Linked DNA regions of Homo sapiens. The protein of the gene in region 1 purifies or fractionates together with the protein of each later gene. This does not show direct contact. Each region holds a gene or a part of one and is shown in the gene's direction. Other genes may lie near its edges.

The links. Proteins that work in one complex are often made in the same cells at the same time.
Region 2: the proteins of FAXC (region 1) and BTAF1 purify together in Homo sapiens (co-immunoprecipitation; 2 studies listed by BioGRID and IntAct, with this or other methods). This does not show direct contact.
Region 3: the proteins of FAXC (region 1) and TBC1D9B purify together in Homo sapiens (co-immunoprecipitation; 2 studies listed by BioGRID and IntAct, with this or other methods). This does not show direct contact.

What each region holds. Positions count from the first base shown.
Region 1 is NC_000006.12:99,339,675-99,346,699, reverse strand, and holds part of FAXC (failed axon connections homolog), read left to right. Parts: intron 1-3,666; coding exon 3,667-3,802; intron 3,803-7,025. UniProt on the Homo sapiens protein: May play a role in axonal development.
Region 2 is NC_000010.11:91,919,316-91,926,789, forward strand, and holds the start of BTAF1 (TATA-binding protein-associated factor 172), read left to right. Parts: upstream 1-4,454; 5' UTR 4,455-4,761; coding exon 4,762-4,775; intron 4,776-7,474. UniProt on the Homo sapiens protein: Regulates transcription in association with TATA binding protein (TBP). Removes TBP from the TATA box in an ATP-dependent manner.
Region 3 is NC_000005.10:179,897,878-179,904,902, reverse strand, and holds part of TBC1D9B (TBC1 domain family member 9B), read left to right. Parts: intron 1-90; coding exon 91-201; intron 202-5,595; coding exon 5,596-5,714; intron 5,715-7,025. UniProt on the Homo sapiens protein: May act as a GTPase-activating protein for Rab family protein(s).

The sequences.
Region 1 (7,025 bases):
CCCGGCGCGCGGCAGCTTACGCCTGTAATCCCAGCACTTTGGGAGGCTGACGCGGGCGGATCACGAGGTCAAGAGATCGAGACCATCTGGCCAACATTGTGAAACCCCGTCTACTAAAAAACAAACAAAAAAACCCCACAAAAATTAGCCTGGCGTGGTGGCACGCGCCTGTAGTCCTATAGCTACTCGGGGAGCTGAGGCAGGAGAATCGCTTGAACCCAGGAGGCGGAGGTTGCAGTGAGCCGAGATGGTGCCACTGCACTCCAGCCTGGCGACAGAGCGAGACTCCGTCTCAAAAAAAGTACCTACTTTGAAATCCGTTTTGTTGGAGGAAGAGGAAGGAAGAGAAATGTGGAGAACTGAAGCATTGCTCAGGGAAGACAGACCTGTATCAGGTGCCTTTCTTGCAGCGTCTAGGGGAAGAGGAGTGGAGGGGCAAAGGGAAAAAAACCAGGCAGGAAGGTCAAAGACCAAGGCTTTAGAGGTTACATGATAACTACCTCCACTTAAGGTGAAATCTAGGTTTCAATAGTCTTTATAATTTAGGCAGAAAACAAAACAAAATCTGAAATATGTAAGATAGAAAATACACCTTAAAATGACTACCCTGAGTTTCTGGCTATTGCAAACTCTTCCCCAGCCTACTTGGATTTTCTGCTGCATAGACATAACCTTAATCTATGACTGTGTCTCTAGAGTGGAAGAGTAAAGTTGACAGGTGAGAATTACTTAGGAAGTTTAATTAATGAATATAACTGAAGTAGGTTTTTGGGGTTTTATCCATGTTTTTTAGCACCATATTTTAAAATAAATATTGTTCCAACACACTACTTTGTTTTCCCTGAGTGGAGATAGCTTGGCAGCTATCTTAAATTCAATCAGGCTTTGGAAATTTTTGTTTGTAAATTGAATGACTAAGTACTAACTTCATTACCAGTGCTTATTTGCACTTTTGACACACGGGCTCAGCCTCTTCTAGAGCATTTAGTTGGCGAATCAACATCTGATCTCTGCAAACTAACAAATCATCAGCTGTATACAGAGGCATGTTCATCTGTGGTATCGTTAGCCCCGGGAATAGTAGTAAACTAGCTAGTTAATGCTCTATGGCTGTCCTCTTATATAAACCTTATGGTAAGATCACTTTATAAAATATAGCTGTACAGGGAACAACCTACCCAAACCTCTGATCCTAAATTAGAGAGGAGTTTCTGACATGTTGGAGGGAGGGCTCTGGTGCCAGACTGTCTGCGTTCAAATTCAGACTCTGTCTGTAACCAACCACATAACCTTGGATATGACAGTAAGCTCTTGATGACTCAGTTTTCTCATCTGTAAAATGGTAATAGTAGTAGTAGCTTTTCTCATAGCATTGATTAAATGAGATAACACGTGACATGCTTAGAACAGAGTTTGTCAAGGTGAAAATTCAATAAAACTTGGCCATCATTAGCTGTGACTTTTATCAGAAAGTTTCAGGCTTCAGTGGTCTAAGTCAAACTGGCAGTTTTAATACGATTAACCGAGGAATTGCCCATTTTGGTGACCTTGAAGTGCTTAAGAGCATGGAAACGAGTTATTTCAGAGTCAATCTTAAATTGATGTTCCTTAGGCAAGTTATTTAACGTCTTTGAGCTTCAATTTTCTTATCTACTATAAAATAGTATAATATGATATCCCAAATTTAAACTGTAACAGTACCCATTCTAAAGTGTCATTGTCAGAATTAAATAAGTTAACATATATAATATATATAAAGTCATTAGCATATGCTTGGTAGATAATTAGCCTCCATTCTTACCATGACATGGCCCAAATTAACAATTAGAATTAGATCGTTCTGGCTGATGGAGCAGGGATTTTTTGTTTGTCTCCTCTCCTGTCGGTTCTGAAATTTGTGTCTGTTAATTTACATGAAAATACCACTTTGTGATGGGAATTATTTGACTGGACAAAATCAGTTAATTGTCAGATCTATAGTTTGTGCTGTCTTGGAACATTGTCTAAATGAGTTCTTGATTTTAATACCTGACTTCTCGAACATTCCATTTAAATGAAAACATTTCTTTTATAGTTAATATTGCCAGAAAGCAGCAATTTTTTTTTTTTACTTGACATATTTTCAAAATGAGTCATTCTGTACTGTGAAGTTGAGTGGGCCCTTGGGTGGTAAACTTTTCAAGAGAGTTTGTTTTACTAAATGGGGATCTGCAGGAAGTGGGCATCCATGTGATGAAGATACAAAGAGCTTGTTCTTGCTTAGGTAGAAAGAAGGGGGTGTGGTGTTGTACTGGGAACAATGCGAGGGAACCAGAGGCTCAGGCAGGGCCAAGGGGAAGGAAGAGTGAAGTTTATCTGACTAGAAATCAGCTGGGTCAAATGAAGATGGAAATTGCAAAAGGGTCCCGAGGAGTGGGGTATGAGTGGGGCTGTGTGGAATGATGAGCTTGCAGGGATGAGACCATATCTCTTTGGATGGGGATAAATTCCACTATTACTTAATGCTTGATAGTTTACTAAATAGTTACAGTATTACCTTATGTAATCCTCATGATAAACCATACAGAATTGGTACTGTCCTCACTCTTCAGGTGAAGATGGTGGAGAGATCTAGGCTAACGTGGCCAGTAGGAAGCAGGGCTTGGATTTGACACCAGTTGTCCAGACTTGGAATCCAGCATTCATTCCATTATGTAGTGGTTATTGAAAAGCTGTATGCAGGGAAGTCCTTCTCACCCAAAAGAGTAGCCAAAGGAAAAGATGGATGTGTGGCTGAGACAGGAGAAAGGGGAAAAGCAGGGGTACTGAAATACATGCTGTGTGGTAAAAGTGGGGATACTGGGAAGGCAGAAAATAAGGAAGACAGAGCTAGAGAGAGAGCATCCAGAAGGCAGGTTCCATGGCATTACAGGTGAAAGAAGGGTTAGGTGAGGGCATGGGCAGTTGGGAAGAGGGACCAGAATTTCAGTCTCAGATTCCCTACAGACTTGGGTCATAGCAGAGCAAATCTGCACTGTTATTCCTGGGTCTTATGGATGAATAGACTGTTTCATGGTATAGTCTAATGGCCAAAACCATGGGCTCTGACTTCTTGGTTGAGTGCCCATTCTGCCATAACTAGCAATGTGACTTTGGGCAAGTTAATCCTCTGTGCCTTAATTTCCTCATCTATAAAACGTGGATAACAGTAGTACCTACTTCATAAGGTTATTATGAAGATTAAAGGAGATAAGACCCATGAGACCCTCAGAACAATGTGTGACACACAGCAAGCACAGAATATCATTTTTATCCATCCAGCTTGTCCTAGCAGGTAAATACAGCCGGCTGGAGAATAGGTGGACCAGTACTAGAAAATGTTCTTGCTGCCCGGAGGCCATAGGTAACAGAAGGAGGTTGTTATGTAGTTACTTTGCTGAGCCAGTGGGGTCATGGTAATATCATGGGAGTTTGTAAGGTTCTCTTGAGTTTTGACTAAGCTTCCATGAGTGCTGGGTGAGGTAAGCCCCTTCGACAAACTGGGTGCTGGGTGATGTAAGCCCCTGTGACAAACAGATCTGCTTGTTCATTGAGGAGCTACAACCCTGCAGGGTCCTCTCAAGAAATAAGGGAACCGAATGTGGATAACATGTGGATTGTACTTTATTTCTGTTTTGGTTTTGACAGGAAACAGCAAGAGATTGACTCTAAAGATGCTATTATTTTGCATCAGTTTGCAAGACCTAACAATGGTGTTCCAAGTTTATCTCCTTTCTGTTTAAAGATGGAAACTTATTTAAGGATGGCTGACTTACCGTATCAGGTACTTGTGTGCAAATATGTTTTCTTTTTATGACATCAGTATCAGGGGATGAGTATTTAACTAAAGGGGGGAATATTTCGTCTCACACAGTGGATGCCAGAGGGGATGGGAGCTGAAACTAGCAGTGCCTAATCCTTAGTAAGAGGGAAATAAAATACTTGATTCCAGGGTCTGTTGATAATGATGGATCAAAAAGGTCTAAACTTTTGAGAGATTCAGCGCCATGATATTTTTCTTTAACAGAGTATTCTTTGGGCTGGGCACGGTGGTTCACGCCTTTAATCCCAGCACTTTGGGAGGCCAAGGCAGGCGGATCACTTGAGGTCAGGAGTCTGAGGCCAGCCTGGCCAACATGGTGAAACCCTGTCTCTACTAAAAATACACAAATTGGCTGGGCTAGTGGCAGACGCCTGTAATCCCAGCTACCTGGGAGGCTGAGGCAGGAGAATCACTTGAACCGGGGAAGCAGAGGTTACAGTGAGCCGAGATTGCACCACTGTACTCCAGTCTGGGTGACAGAGCAAGACTCCATCTCAAAAAAAAAAAAAAAAGTATGCTTTGGTTAATAGTTTGGACAGGCCTACTGAGCCTTGACAAAGATGGGTGTGCCACTGCCTGATGTGGTTTTTTACTTTAGGTTTTAGTTTATTGACAGCATCGTATTTTGTCCCTCATGAATCTTGGGGGCAGAAGGCCCAGTAGGCCACGAGGTAGATATTTGTGTATGTGGTGAGAGCTTTTCCACAGCACTCCATGTTCTGTTTGTGTGACTTTCAGGGAAACACTTGTTCATTTTAGCAGTAAATAAGGAAGAGGAGTGTACTTAAAGGTATATATTTCTCTCTGAGTAATGCTTGAGCTGTGTCTCACAAAGTCAACACGCTGTGTTTTCATAGTCATTCAATTCTATGTATTTTTTTTAAAAGTTCACTTATGTTTTTATTTTTAACCAAGTTCTAGCCATATGGAACTATTTTAAGCTTTGATTTTTGTTATCATTTTTAATTTGATGGTCAGAGAAGATAGTCTCTGTGATATTGATTCCTTGGAATTCACTGAAGCTTTAGCCTGGTTTGTAGTTACTTTTTTAAAATGTTGAAAATAATTACATATTCTCTGTTTGGATATAGAGAGCTCTCTATAGATCTACTTGCTTAAACACGTTTAGTGTATTATTTAGACCTTCTGTATTTCTGCTTATTTTTTTGTCTGAAAGGAGCATGTTAAAATATTCAAGTGTATCTGTTGATTTGTCTCTTTCCTGTCATTCTGTCTGTTCTTGCTTTATGTTAGAGTATTTATATATTTTAGGTTACATTGTTAGGTACATATAAAAGTTCACATCTTTTACTCTTGTTTATTTTTCTAGTATGTATCCTCCATTGATGTCTCTTCCTATTTTTTAAAAAACTTGAATTCTGTGTTATCAGATATTGAGATAGATTCTCCAGCCTTCTTTTGGTTCATATTTGCTTAGGATATCTTTCTTCATTCTCTCTCTCTTTTTCTCGCCCTCTCTCTTTTTGTATTTATTTCTCTCTTATATCTAATTGGAGAGTCTTTTAATTGGCAACTTTAATCCATTTATACTTATTGAAATGATTGTTTTATTAGAACTTATTTCTAATATCTTATTTAATATTTTTCTCCTTACTATACTTCATTTTAAATTTCTTCTCATTTCCTGCTTTCTAATAGATATTTTTTCTCATTTAAAACAAATTATATTTTTGTTGTTATTGTAGTTACTCTTAAGACCCAAATTTGTGTTTATGCTTATTAATTTGTTAAATGAATTAAAGTCTGTATTTATTCTGTTATAATACAAACACATTAGCAGTTTACGTGTACCTTGGGTCTCTTCCTTTCTTCCCAGCCCTGATCCCAATTGTGTTGCTGTTGTCTAAGATTTTAATTCTGGAATTTTTTGGCCGGGCACGGTGGCTCACGCTTGTAATCCTAGCACTTTGAGAGGCCGAGGAGGATGGATCCCTTGAGGCCAGGAGTTCAAGACCAGCCTGACCAACATGGCGAAACCCCATCTCTATTAAAAATACGAAAATTAGCCAGGTGTGGTGGTGTGTACCTGTAATCCCAGCTACTTGGGAGGCTGAGGCAGGAGAAGTACTTGGACCCGGGAGGCAGAGGTTGCAGTGAGCCAAGATTGTGCCATTGCACTCCAGCCTGGGTGACAGAACCAGACTCCATAAAAAAAAAAAAAAAAAAAAAAAGGAATTTTAGCAATTCTTATCCTTTCTTTTTTATCCTTTTTAGGCAACAAACTTTAGTATGTTATTTGACTAGCCTTATTTCCCATATATCTTATTATAAAGGATTTATCTTTTTATTTGAGAACTTCCCTGATGAATATCTTTAGAGTGAGTCTTTATGTGGCAAACCTTCAGTGGCTTTGCATGCCTGAGAATATAGTTATTATACTCTCACATTTGATAAATTTATGTTCAAAGTTCTTTTCCTTCTATATTTTAAAAATATTAGGCCAGGCTGGTGGCTCATGCCTGTAATCCCAGCACTTTGGGAGGCTGAGGCTGGTGGATCGTCTGAGGTCAGGAGTTCAAGACCAGCCTGGCCAACATGGTGAAACCCCATCTCTATTAAAAATACAAAAATTAGCTGGGCGGTAGTGGCGTGTGCCTGTAATCCCAGCTACTCGGGAGGCTGAGGCAGGAGAATCGCTTGAAGTGGGGAGGTGGAGGTTGTGGTGAGCCGAGATCACGCCACTGCACTCTAGTCTGGGAGACAGAGTGAGACCCTGTCTCAAAAAAAAAGAAAATTGATGTTAATCTCATTCTTCTTTCTCTTTCTCTCTAAATTATCTTAGAATTTGTATTTAATCTTAATATTCTCAAGTTTCAATATGGCATGTGTTGGTGTGGGTCTTTATATATCCTGTTTGGTCCTTTATAAACTCTTATTATCTGAGGTCTTTCATCTCTTTTGAATTCTGGAGAATTAATTATCAATTTTGTTAAAATATTTCCTTTTCTTTTATGTTTGTTTTTCTTTTCCCTCTTCTTCCTTGTTCCCTATTATCCAGATTTTGGAAACTCTGCTTCTATTTTCTATGTCTCTCTACTCTCTACTTGAATTCTTTTCTGCTTCTTTCTGGAAGCATTCCTCTCTCTGAGCTTCCTTTGCATTGCTCTATGTGTGTTTGTTGTTGTTGTTTGTTTGTTTTTGTATCCATTATGCTATTTACCCC
Region 2 (7,474 bases), on another chromosome or scaffold:
AAGAAAGAAAGAAAAGAAGGAAGGAAGGATGGAAGGAAGGAAGGAAGGAAGGAAGGGAAGGAAGAAAGGAAGAAAGCAAGAAAGCCTAGCACTTTGGGAGGCCGAGGCAGGTGGATCACCTGGAGTCAGGAGTTTGAGACCAGCCTGGGCAACATGGTGAAACCCCGTCTCTACTAAAAATGCAAAAATTAGCCAGGTGTGGTGGCAGTTGCCTGTAATCCCAGCTACTCGGGAGGCTGAGGCAGGAGAATTGCTTGAACCCAGGAGGCGGAGGTTGCAGTGAGCCAAGATTGTGCCATTGCACTCCAGCCTGGGGGACAAGAGCAAGACTTCGAAGGAAAAAAAAAAGGAAAGAAAGAAACTTCCATTAGGCATTTCTTGTAGGGCAGACCTAGTAGTGATGAGTTTCTTCAGCTTTTGCTTGTTTGGGAAAAACTTTATTTCTTCTTCATTTCTTCATTCCTTTCAGCACTTTGAATATATAATCTTATTCTTTCCTGGCCTATAAGGTTTCTCCTGAGAAATCTATTGGTAGTCTAATGGAGATTCCCGTATATGTGACTTGACACTTTTCTCTTGCTGCTTTTAAAATTCTTTATTTTTCTTTAAATTTTGACAGTTTGATTATTATGTGCCTTGGTGAGGATGTCTTTGGGCTGTATTTATTGGGGGATCTTTCAGTTTTATGAATCTGCCCCTCTATATCTGTCCCAAGACTTGAAAGGTTTTTTTAGCAATAATTTCACTAAATAAGCTTTTTCGTTATCACTTCTCCTTCCTTAACTCCTATAATGTGAATATTTGTTCACTTAATGGTGTACATTTAGTTATTATAAATAATAATAACTAAAATAGTTAATCATAATAGTTAATATTTATTTAATACTTAGTCTTTTCTTTTCATTGAAACAGGGTCTCCTTCTGTCACCCAGGCTAGAGTAGAGTAGCATGATCATGGCTTACTGTTGCCTCAAGTTCCTGGGCTCAAGGGATCCTCCCACCTTAGCCTCCTGAGTAGCCAAGATTATAGGCACATGCCACCAACAGCTGGCTTTTTTTTTTTTTTTTTTTTTGAGACGGAATCTTGCTCCATCACCCAGGCTGGAGTGCAGTGGCGTGATCTTGGCTCACTGCAAGCTCTGCCTCCCAGGTTCATGCCATTCTCCTGCCTCAGCCTCCCGCGTAGCTGGGACTACAGGTGCCCGCCACCATGCCCGGTTAATTTTTTGTATTTTTCATAGAGACTGGGTTTCACTGTGTTAGCCAGGATGGTCTCCATCTCCTGACCTCATGATCTGCCTGCCTTGGCCTCCCAAAGTGCTGGGATTACAGGCATGAGCCACCGCACCCAGCCTAATTAAAAAAAATTTTTTTTGTAGACATGAGGTCTCCCTATGTTGCCCAGGTTGGTCTCGAATTCCTGGGCTCAAGCGATCCTCCCACATCAGCCTCTCAACGTGCTGGGATGACAGGCATGAACTATCACACCTGGCTAATACTTAGTATTTTCTAAGTGTGTCATGTATGAACTCATTTCTTCCTTATGACAATTCTATAAGTACAGGTTCATGATCTATTATTTACAATTCTGAAATTGAAAATGGTCTGAAAACCACACTTTTAAAAACTCACCTATAGTCCCAGCTACTCATGAGGCTGAGATGGGAGGACTGCTTGAGCCCAGGAGTTCAAGACCAGCCTTGGAAACAGCAAAATGCCATCTCAAAATATATATATTTGGCAGCAAATCCTGGCCTGAACTGGCATATGCCTATCTATAGTCTTTTACTTATTCCTCTTAGTATGGTTAGTCATACATTTTGCTGCAGCTCTATAAATATATTTGATTATAGAGTACTGCCCTACAAGCTGTTGGGATGCTGCATAATACAAGGTATATTCATTGGATTTCTTTTCAAAACCTAAATAATTCTTAACTCAGAAAACCATCTGGCAGGGGTGATGAACTGGTATAGATAACGGTGGTGAACTGGTACTATTATTATCCCCGTTTCACAGCTGAATAAATTGAGACTAGAAATTGCCACTTACTCAAGTTTCCATTGTTAACAAAAACAGTAAGCAATGTAGTTAATAATATTTTTGAGGGCTTCTCGTGGCAGTCACTTGGTTAAATGTTTTATGTGCATTAATTTAATCATCACCGCAACCCTATGAGTACTATTATTATCCTCATTTCCCAGATGAAGCTTAGAGAGGTTCTAAAATTCCCCCTGGAGACACTGCGATTCAGTGTGGTGAGAAAGGATTTAAAAACAAGCCGGTCCAATATCAATATATTTGATTATTACACTATCCTTTACAAATCTACACCACCAGTCCTTTCCTCTCTTCTAATGCCATTTAGACTATATACCCAATTATCTGATAATAAAAAGATTTAAAAAATATAACTAAGATCATTTTACTCACTTGCTTAAAACTCTATGACTTTCTACTTCATATGGAGCAAAGTCCAAATTCCTTACGATGATCCCTTTCTACTTCTCCCATCTCATTTCCCAACAGAGCAGACTTCTCTTACGCCTTTGCACTACGTATACCCTCTTCCTGGAAGGCTCCCAGATTGTCACACATTTAGCTACCTCTTGTCATTTAGGGCTCAGCTTAAGCTAATCCTGTTTTTCCCTGATTTACCCAGTAAGAGTAGGTCTTTAATCATACCATTAATTCCATCATTCTCTTTACATAGCACATAAATATATTTTCAATGTTTATCTATTTTCTTTTTCCTTTCCTTTTAATGTAAATTCAACCAGAGTAGGCACCTTGTCTGTTCTGGTTTCTTCAGAAGTTCCAGTCTCTCATATGGTAGGTGCTTAATTTTGGCTAAATGATTGCTGTACACGATCAGTAAAAAGTATCTGCTTGTTATTGAATGGTGGGAGATAAACTGATGAGGCAAGTAGGTGACTAAAGTGAAAATGTAAAGATATCTTGAACATCAACTTGATTAGATTTTAATAGCATGAACACCGCCAAGCAGAGTTTCTGATACAGAGAGGTGACAAACATTTGTTGAATGACTGGACAATAAATATTATTACTAGCTTGAATCTTGAGGCAAATTACTTAACCTTTCTGAGCTTAGTTTCCTTGTCTACGAAGATTAAAACTAACTTTTCAAGGCTTCCCTACAAATTATATGGATAATGCATGTCATGTGCCCAGCACACAGCAGGTACTTGTTAGTTTCTTTCTCTTTACATACATATATACTACTTTATGGTTTACAAAGTTCTTGTAAGCTCTTCTAGATTCATGACCTCATTTTATTCCCACAATCTTCTGCAGTACTTCTCATTAGCCTCATTTTACAGATGAAAAACAGACTCAAGGATTGAGACATAGCCTCTTCAGGTAATGAGAAGCCAATGGACATGCTTTATAAGCATAGGAGCGACATGATAAAAAGCAGTGAGGTTTTTTGAAGATTAATCTGTTGGCCTATAAAATGGGCTGAACTGAAAATTGGAGAAATATTATTTTGACTACTAGCATAAAAATCAAGTTTAAGGGCCGGGCGCAGTGGCTCACACCTGTAATCCCAGCACTTTGGGAGGCCGAGGCGGGCAGATCACTTGAGGCCAGGAGCAGGAGACAAGCCTGGCCTACATGGCGAAACCCCGTCTCTACTAAAAAATACAAAAAATTGGCCCGGCGTGGGGCTCGTGTGCCTCCCAGCTACTCGGGAGGTTGAGGCACATTTAGAATCGCTTGAACCCGGTAAGCGCAGGTTGGCAGTGAGCCGAGATCGCGCCACTGCACTCCAGCCTGGGCGACAGAGCGAAACTCGGTCAAAAAAAAAAAATCAAGTGTAAGATGATAAGGGCCTGGCAGAAGTGTTTAAAAGCCTAATGAACTTAAAAATATTGAAAAGCCAGATAAGTCCCCCAAAGGAACAAAAATTTAAAAATGGTAGTTTTCAAATCTGGCTGGCTGAGAAAATGATGGTACAAACAACATAAACAATTGAGAAATCAAACTTGGCAAAATCGTTGGTCAGAAGACCTTCTCTCCAATACCTAGGCAGAACTTCTGGCAAATAATGACAAACATCTGAGCCATTTCTTCAGTGTCATAGCGACTTTTTGCTTTCACTCCTCCCACTGGCTTCACCACCTGGACAAGAGCATGTTAAGGTCCTTCTGATCTTGCTTCCTAGATGCAGTACGGTGGGAAGCAGAATCTGGGTAGTGTGGAATTAGAAACCAAGCTTTCGAAGTTCCAGGACTTGGACTAAATCGCCTTTTTCCTTCTCTGTCAAATAAGGGGACCCTTACTTCACCTCCTTCCCTAGTTTTAAGACTAGACACCCTCTCCACATCAGCACAAAGCGCTTTTATTTAGGCGCGTGCCGCCAAACCAAAGGCGCTCGCGCCGAGCTAAGCTCCTGTCGGTGAGCTTACGTCACTTCCGGCGCGCTGACGCTCAGTTGTGCGTGCCGACGCCCGCGTCAGCAAAGAGCGGAGCTGAGGGTACCCGGTTTGAAGTCGTGCGGGTCGGAGGACTGCCGCCTCCGCTACCGTCTTGGACCCCTGCTTACCGGCCGCCGCGGGGACGAGCTCGGGTAGGCGGCAGGGCAGATGCCCGAGGGCCTGCGCTGGAACGCCCCACGCCGCACCGGCCGCTCCCCTGTGCTCCGCGGCCTGGGCCTGCGCCGCTCAGCTCTCTGGAAACTAGCGCCTCAGCTGCGCGGCGCGTAGGTCGCGGGGAGCTCCGAACCGCCGGCGCCCGGCCATGGCGGTCTCCAGGTGGGTCTTGCTCCTGACGAGCAAACTGGAAGGCGATTCAGGGAAGGCATGGTCTCCTCTTAGAGCCCCCACTCCTAGAGAAGAGCGGTTCTCATTGTCACTGGGCTCTGGAGCTTTCTTCAGTAGACTTCGGAGTTCGCCCCGTGGTCGGCGGGGGTTTGGGCTCGGGTTACTCCTGGGTAAATCGGTTCAATAATGCCTTTTTCTTGTTAATAGACCCCTTGGCACGTTAGAGCTGTTTTTTCTCTTTCCTCACCATGTTTCTGTTCTCTGGTTTCTCTTCCCTCTTTCGATTCTAGGGGAGTCTCTTATCTTTCTCAGTATTCTAAGGCTGGTCCCTAACCTCCATTTCATGGGAAAACTTGGTAGTTACTGTCGATGGAGGGGAAACCTGAATTACTATTATCTAAGAGACCGTCTAATTATGTTACCAGTTTTAATTTACGTTTTTAGGGGTATGTTCTTTCCTGAGATGTTTTTTAAAATTAAGTATAATTTCTCCTTTTGTTTGGCAGTAAACATTCCAACGTCAGCGTTGTAACCTTAAGCCAATTATCGTATTAGCATCATTTTCCGTAACTAAGGCGTGGAAGATAAATCACAGATCTTATATTCTTTTGAAATATTGCCTGTCAACAGGAAAGCCCAGGAAAACTATAGAAAAACTAACGACATTTATTTGTATAGCTATAGGAGAAACATTACTTTTTCCTCCGGTATGATAGAATGGTTGGAAAGCTTTTGTAAGCGGAATTTGGTGACCCTCTGTACATGTAATTAAGGGATAGTTCCTCTGTGATAGTGATCGGATGGATTCACCAAGTTCCTTAGAGTTGATATGGTAACTTTTAATGAGAATTGGATTCTTTTACCATATAGACTGAAGGAATAAATGATGAAAACAAATAGTTTTCATTTTTTTATAATTAACTGAACACATTCTTTGAGCGTATTAAGTGCACAAGTTTTATCTGTTTTGCAAGGGAAAGGATAACCCATTCCTTACAGACTCCCTAGATGACTGATGAAATAGTGTGTGGGAGAAGCCCATGGGAGTTGGGTGAAGGGGGTTGCTAGGTACCGTAGTATGGGGCATCTGATTTTTATTTTATAATCTATTCAATGTGAGGAAATTTTTTTTTAAATAAAACTGCCTTGAGAGAATACAAGTGACATTTTACATTTTTGCAAATATAGAAAGGTGTATCTTCTAATTTGTTACCTCCCATATAAATGCATGAATATATACATTGTAAATGCATTGATATGTAAACTTAATATAACATTTATCAGGTAATAGTGTTTAAGGAGATGAGTACTTCTTTTCTTAGAGCAACCTGTGCATTTTCACAGGATTGGATGTAGCTTTATAAAGACAAAATGAAAGTGTTTAAAAAGAACCTAATTTTCGGGCAACGCTAATCTCTTTTTTTTTTTTTGAGAAGGAATCTGGCTCTGTAGCCCAGGCTGGAGTGCAGTGGCGAGATCTCGGCTCACTGCAAGCTCCGCATCCCGGGTTCAGGCCATCCTCCTGCCTCAGCCTCCCAAGTAGCTGGGACCACAGGCACCCGCCACCACACCTGGCTAGTTTTTTGTATTTTTAGTAGAGACGGGTTTCACCGTGTTAGCCAGGATGGTCTCGATCTCCTTACCTCGTGATCCGCCGGCCTTGGCCTCCCAAAGTGCTGGGATTACAGGCGTGAGCCACCGCGCCCAGCCAACACTAATCTCTTTACGGAATTTTAGGACAGTTAATATTTCTCAATGACTGAGTGGGTTTTGAAGGTACTGTCTTTTGTTCTGGATGTTGTGTTTCAAAGAGTAGCACTCTTTTTCTGTGGATTTTTTTCTCGTTCACTTTTTTAAAAGCCTGTCATGTTTTTATGGAAGAGCTATTTCTGTGCTTAGTTTCCTTGGGCTCAGTAGTAAGCCCAAGGAAAACATTTTGAGACACTTGTGTGTTTTGGGGATAGTGTCAATTCTTGACTTTTTCACCTGTGGATTTCTTTGAATGGCAAATTTTAGTTTCAAGCTGGCCTTCTCCATGCACGAAGCACAGTTCTGTGCTAACTAAACTTCCTTTCTCTCCTGTTGGTGCAGACTCATTTTAATACTATTTTACGTAAAATAGGTGGAAAATAGCCCAGGAGATAAAAATCATATGCTAAAATCAAATCTAAAATATTTTTTGCACTGTTTATTTCATATGCATAACTGAAGAGAAACTGTAATATTTTTAGGACATTTCCACCAGAATTTCCAACAGATGGGAAATAGTAAGTTAGTACCATTATTCCCTCAATTGTCTGGTCAAGAAATTTGAGAATGTTCTTTGACTTCCCTTTTCCTCCCACACCCCATGTCCAGCCAGTTACCAAATCCAATCCTGTATATTCTGCCTTTCTAATCTTTCTCCAGCTGATCATTTTTCTTTCTATACCAGTTACCACAATCCTAGAACATGCCACCATCTCTAGTCCAAGACACCTTTAGAGAGACGCTTCCCTTTTGTCACTGTAAAGCTACATCCAATCTTTTGAAAATACACACTCAACCCTAGGAAAGGAAGTACTCATCTCCTTGAACATTGTATCACCTGATAAGTCTCATAGTAAGTTTATGTATCAATGTATTTGGTATTTGGACATGTTTAGTACAAGACAGGAGCCTCTCTCCTTTTCCTGCCTTCCATGGCATCT
Region 3 (7,025 bases), on another chromosome or scaffold:
CCATCCTGTCTGCCTCCGGCCAGACTCAGCCTTCAGGGGCCTCAGTCCGGCCCTCCCCTCACCCTCTATGTCTCTCTGCCCTGTTCCCAGGTCTTCTCGTGGGCACCCTGGACGTGGTGCTGGACTCCAGTGCCCGCGTGGCCCCTTACCGCATCCTGCACCAGACCCAGGACTCCCAGGTCTACTGGACAGTGGCGTGTGGTAGGTGCCCTGAGTGGTGAGGGGTGCTGGGCAGGGCCTGCCCTGGAAGGGCCGTTGCCGAGAGGAAGGGGTGTGTAGCCCACGTGTCTGGGTGGTATTCCCTGCTGACAGCATAGCCCAAGGCTGCAAGAGGGAAGTGGAGGAGCCTTCGCTTCCATCTTAGAAAGGCAGCTCCGTGGCCCGGTGCGGTGGCTCACGTCTGTAATCCCAGCACTTTGGGAGGCCGAGGCGGGCTGATCACGAGGTCAGGAGATCGAGACCATCCTGGCTAACACGGTGAAACCACGTCTCTACTAAAAAACACAAAAAATTAGCTGGGGGTGGTGGCGGAGGCCTGTAGTCCCAGCTACTCGGGAGGCTGAGGCAGGAGAATGGCGTGAACCCGGGAGGCGGAGCTTGCAGTGAGCCGAGATCGCGCCACTGCACTCCAGCCTGGGCGACACAGCGAGATTCCGTCTCAAAAAAAAAAAAAAAAAAAAAAGGCAGCTCCACTGGTCATGGGGACAGGGCAGGAGAGGACAGCCCCATGGATCCCCATGTACCTCTAGGGACGCAGGTGTGGGGCTAGCCAATGTCCACATTCTCATGCCACCTTTTCTCAAGGTAGACGTAGTCGGCCTCATTCAAAGATTCCATATTTGCAAATTGGCCTACTCAATAAAATGTATTTGCAATCCCCAAATCAATACTTCCAGCGATTTTGTGGTCATTTGGAGACACTCATGGACACATGCACGTTCAAAGCAGTGAAAAATTTGACTCGCCTGATGCCCATGTCCCCAGCTGAGGCAGAACAGGACGACGCTCTGCCTTCTTGATTCAGCTCTCATACTGCACTCACGTGTCCTGTTCACAGTCTCTGCAGTGCCATGTTTTTCCCATGTTTGTGCTCGTTGCTGATGACTTGGCTGTTTAAAATGGCTCCCAAGCATAGCGCTCTTGTTCCTAAGAGCAAGAAGGCTGAGTTGTGCCTTGTGAAGGAGATCTGTGCATGAGAGCAGCTTCATTCAGGCGTGAGTGATAGTGCTGCTGGCCGTGAGCTCAATGCCAATCGATCAGGAATACGTATTAAATAAGGCATCTTTAAACAGAAACACATGTAAAACAGTTATGTATCGGTCAGTCGACAGAAGTGTGATTAGAGGCTCCAGGAACCTAACCCTGTGTTCCCCCGGGGTACTGGTTCAGGATTCGCTAACTCAGTGTTCGCGGCCACCTTACAGAATCTGACCACCTGAATAACGAGAATCCGCTGTAGTTGTCCTCCTAGGTGGAAGCGCACTCACCCGTCCAAGAGTGCGGAGGGAAGTCCCCTTTCAGCGGGTACCTGCTGGGTTGAGTTTGCTCTGAGAAAATGACAGTCCTAGCTGACGCTCAGACAGTGCTTCCTGTGTGCCAGGCACTTGCCTGAACCACCCGGTACCTCCAGAAGGCATAAGTACTTTGGTCTTCTCTATGTTGAAGGTGAAGAAACTCTGGCCCAGAGGGGTTGAGTAACCTGCTCAGAGTCACACAGCTGCAGTTTGGACCCTCTCAGTACCTCTCTGAAGCAGAAGCCACAGTGCCCTTGTTCTCCAGGGTAGTGGTTTCCCTTGAAGGCCTGGGAGAAGATGATGAGACTCAAAAGTTTGTCAACCTCACGGCTGGAACCCAGCTTCAGGAGGGGAAGGGTCAAGGAAGTAAAAGCACAGGGCGGGCGGCACCCCGGGAATAGCCCCACTCCCAGGTGGGCGCTCTGCACGGGCATCCTGACCAGCAGTGCCCTTCTCCTTTGCAGGACTGAATAACTCAGTAAGAGTTAGGAAGGGGAGTTTGTCCAAGGCCAAGCAGGGAAGCCCAGTTAGACCCCCGATCTCTGGCTTCAGAGCCTGAGTGGACCCTGGGGGCAGCAAGAGTTTGCCAGAGGAGGGGCTTCCTGTGGGGAGGGGACCATTTCTGAGTGGGCCAGGAGGTTGGTGTGTGCTAATGAGGAGAGGAGCTGCTTTAACATGGGCCCTTGAGATTTCCATCTCTGGCAGCAAGAGCTGCCCGTCCCTGGGGAGAGAAAAGTACGAGGGGCAGAGTGGGAATCCCTTTAGTCACAGCAGGCCTGGTGCTGGGGAGGGGCCCAGCCACAGCCACGCAGCGGAGCCCATGTACGTAGCCCCGTGCCACACACTTGACCTCTCCCCTCCTGCCAGGCCCAAAGCCCTGCACTGGCCCTGGCTGTGCCTCCCTTTCCTGCCAGCCAGGCTAGGCCCCAGAAGCAACTCACCAAGACCAGACATGGCCCTGCCAGCACCTGCTTAGTGAGTCCTGACCCTTGAGCCTGGTGTTCGAGGACACCTGGGGGTCTGCCTGCCTCCATTTCTGGCCTTGTCTCCCCAGCTCACAGCCTGGCCTTCAGCCGGACCACACAGCTGCAGGGCCTGGAGGAGCCACACCCCTCCTGGCTGCTGTGCCTAGTGTCCGCCATGCCAGCTAACCTTCCCTCCCGCTCCTCTGAGAACTGCCCAGACTCCACAGACCCATCCTTCCTCCTTACTCCTCTGGACATGACGTGTCTGCACACGCTTTTACGTGGAAGCCCATGAGGCCGGGAGCTTCCGAGGGTGAGGGCAGGCTCTGCAGCCAGGCACCCAGGGTTAGGATTCTGATTTGATCACTTCCCAGCTGTGTGACCTTGGGTAACTTATTTCACCTCTCTGTGCCTCAGCTTCATCTGGTAAAATGAAAATAATGGTACCTGTCTCCACTGTGTTCTGAGAATGAAATAAGATAATCCATGGAAAACTCTGAAAACAGAAACAGCATTTAATACTCTAATTAGCTATTATATTATTTTTATTCCCAGCACCTAGCATAGAGATGGAATAGTTTCTTAGTATGAAATGAAGATTGAGTTACTTTTAACTAATATTTTTAATGCACATATGTAAAAAAAGAAATGTTTTTTTGAGGCGTTCTCTTTCTGTTGCCCAGGCTGGAGTGCCGTGGTGCAATCACAGCTCACTGCAGCTCTCTGGCTAAAGCGATCCTCCCACCTCAGCCTCCTGACTAGCTGGGACTGCAGGCCCACGCAACCATGCCTCATTTTTTCTATTTTTTGTAGAGACAGCCATGTTGCCCAGACTGATCTCAAACTCCTGGGCTCAAGCGATTCCCCTGCCTCAGCCTCCCAGAGTGCTGGGATTATAGGACTGAGCCACTGTGCCCGGCCTATAAATATTTTTAATTAAAGTGCTGACACATCCACACAGGCAGCGAGGAGGAGATTTCTTCTGTTTTAGTTTTCTAGGAATGTTATGTGTAACAGAAAATAATACAGTAGAGTTGCACCACATGTAAATTTGACTTCCAAATTCAACTGTGGGTTCCTGGCAAAGAAACCGAAAAAGAAATCTCTACCTACCAACTAGGCCTTGGCCTCTGTGCATCAGGGAAAGGAGGCTGTAATAGAAATGCAAAGAAAAATGAAAAAAAAAGTTTAAAGTGAATTATGGATGACTTAAGGGGCTTCCAGGAGTAATTCTGGGGGCCTTTTGTGACTCACTGCAAGCTGTGTGATTCTGGGTGGAATCGTTTTCCCGTGGGCATCCTCCCCCAGGCCAATCGGGAGGATCTATCCTGTGGCCTTGCTTCTTAGGTCAGGGTCTGCTTGAGGAGATTTGACAAAGCAAACAAATCAGTCCCAAGCAGAACAGCCGGGCTGTGACACAGCCTTGAGCGGGTGCCACGGGCTGGAGCAGGTGACAGGCCCAGCCTGGCCTGGAGGGAGGGTCAGAGCTGTCTCCAGCTGGCAGAAGAGCCTGGTCAGGGAGGGAAGGAAGGTGGTCGGGGCAGGCGTGCCAGCAGAGACGTCTGGTTCACAGTCACACTGGCCTCCCGAGCATAGTGCCGTAGTGCTCTTGTTCCTAAGAGCAAGAAGGCTGAGTTGTGCCTTGTGAAGGAGATCCGTGCATGCGAGCAGCTTCTTTCAGGCGTGAGTGATAGTGCTGCTGGCCGTGAGCTCAATGCCAATCGATCAGGGATACGTATTAAATAAGGCATCTTTAAACAGAAACATGTAAAACAGTTATGTATCGGTCAGTCGACAAGAGTGTGATTAGAGGCTCCAGGAACCTAACCCTGTGTTCCCCCAGGGTACTGGTTCAGGATTCGCTAACTCAGTGTTCGCGGCCACCTTACAGAATCTGACCACCTGAATAACGAGAATCTGCCATGTCTTGGCTGAGGCTGTCTTCATGCCTGGTGGGTGGGCCTCCTGTCCCACCCCCGGACAGCTGAGAATGATTCAGGGTGTCATTCACTCCTCATCCTTGTGTTCATTCAGTACAGGCAAAACCCCAGAAACAGGTGCTGGGGGTAGGGGAGCCAGGCCAGGCAGAGATCTCCCCTCATCCCTTTGCTCTTCCCCCGGGGCTTCTTCCCCGATTCCTTAATGGGAGCAAACAATTCTTCCAGCCTTTGAAAGTGGCATCGTGCTGCCTTCTCTACGTTTTTGTTTTGTGTGTTGTTTTGTTTTTTGAGACGAGGTCTCACTTTGTCACTCAGGCTGCACTGTAGCCTCCGCCTCCCAGGCTCAAGCAATCCTCCCACCTCAGCATCCTGAGTGGCTGGGACCACAGGTGCATGCCACCACGCCCAGCTAATTTTTTGTATTTTTGGTTTCGCCATGCTGCCCGGGCTGATCTCGAACTCCTGGGCTCAAATGACCCTCCTGCCTCAGCCTCCCAAAGTGCTGGGATTACAGGCATGAGACACGGCGCCCAGATTTTCTCTACATTTTTTTTAATTTCCGTTGGGCCTATGGAGGACAGGGACCCCCTCCCTCCTAGGTGGGGCAGACACAAGGTAAGAAGGTGGCCAGGAGAAACTGAAGAGAGGGACAGTAGCTACTCGCCTGCCCAGCAGGAGCCTCGCTGGCCAGGGGCCTGGAGTCTTGTAGGAAGCTCCGGCTGCTTATCTGTGGATACCTAGATGCTCAGGAAAGAGCTGGACTCATTTATACAAAGTATGACTGTGTCTGATTAATCACCTACATAGCAAAAGCCACATTAAGTTCTTTCAACTTGAGGAAAAGTGTAAGTTAGCAAGCTTGCAGGCACACAGACTATTTCTAGGACACATAGGAGACTTAGTGACTCTCCCTGTTGGCTTCAGGGACAGGTGGAAACATTCTCTCCCACACGACTGTGATTCAGCCTGGACGTTTAATTTTTTGTTTTTTTACCAGGACCATTTATTACTTTGTTATGCACATATCCATCAGCTTAAGAGGGAAAAGCAGCTTGAAGATTCTGGTCACTTAGATTTAGCAAATGAGGTCACCCACTTTCATCTCGCTTCTTTGAATGTGCGTTTAAGGCCTGGGGAATTCATGATTTTTCTTTTACTTTACCAAACCTCTTCTAGGTTCTTCCCGCAAAGAGATCACAAAACACTGGGAATGGCTGGAAAATAACTTGCTCCAGACACTGTCCATCTTCGACAGTGAGGAAGATATCACCACCTTCGTCAAGGGCAAGATACACGTAAGGTTTACCCGCCACTCTCTGTTCTCACCCTTCCCTGGCCAGCAGTGTTCTCGTGTATTATCCTATTTCATCTTCACGATGTAGGGTGCGTCCCCATTTTACAAAGGTGGAGACTGAAGTGTCAGCGCTCCTTCTCTTGGAGTTGAAAGGGGCAGAGGAACTCGTGACCCAGGAAAACCCCTTCTTACCCTGGGTGGGCACTGGAGGCTGCTGAAGCCTAGTGCGGGGCTTCCATTCCTACCCAAGTGCCTTGGAAGGCGTACGCAGATAGACGGTTCTGTTTGCCAGAAGAGATGCTGGAAACAATTGGATATTTTGAGTTGTTTTTTATAATAAAACTAACGTTATTTTAAAAGACACATGCCCTTTACCCAAAAATTCCATTCTTGGCGTTTACCCTACAGTGTATTCATATATGCAGAATATACAGTTTAAAGGGCCAGGTGTGGTGGCCCACACCTATAATCCCAGCACTATGGGAGGCCGAGGTGGGTGGATCATCTGAGGTCAGGAGTTCAAGAGCAGCCTGGCCAACGTGGCAAAACCCCATCTCTACTAAAAATACAAAAATTAGCCAGGCATGGTGGCACGCGCCTGTAATCCCAGCTACTCAAGAGGCTGAGACAGGAGAATTGCTTGAACCCAGGAGGCCGAGGTTGCAGTGAGCTGAGATCGTGCCACTGCACACCAGCCTAGGTGACAGAGTGAGACTCCATCTCAATTAAAAAAAAAAGGCCAGGTGCGGTGGCTCAGGCCTGTAATCCCAGCACTTTGGGAGGCCAAGACAGGCAGATCACGAGGTTAGGAGATCGCGACCATCCTGGCTAACACAGTGAAACCCTGTCTCTACTAAAAATACAAAAAAAATTAGCCGGGCGTGGTGGTGGGCACCTGTAGTTCCAGCTAATCGGGAGGCTGAGGCAGGAGAATGGCATAAACCCGGGAAGCAGAGTTTGCAGTGAGCCAAGATGATGCCACTGCACTCCAGCCCAGGCGACAGAATGAGACTTCGTCTCAAAAAAAAAAAAAAAAAGTAGAGATGGGGTTTTGCCATGTTGGCCAGGCTAGTCTCAAACTCCTGACCTTAAGTGATCCACCCACCTTGGCCTCCCAAAGTTATGGGATTACAGGCATCAGCCACCGCACCTGGCCTGAATGTATATGTCTTTTTCTTTCTGTTAGGTTATTGCCTTAAGTTAGATTCATGGGAGGGCTCTTACCAGGTCAAAGTCGTGTGGTGCAAAGTTGCTTTGGGCAGGCCCATGTGAATTCCTGATACCAGAACTTCCTAAGCCTGGACAGACATTA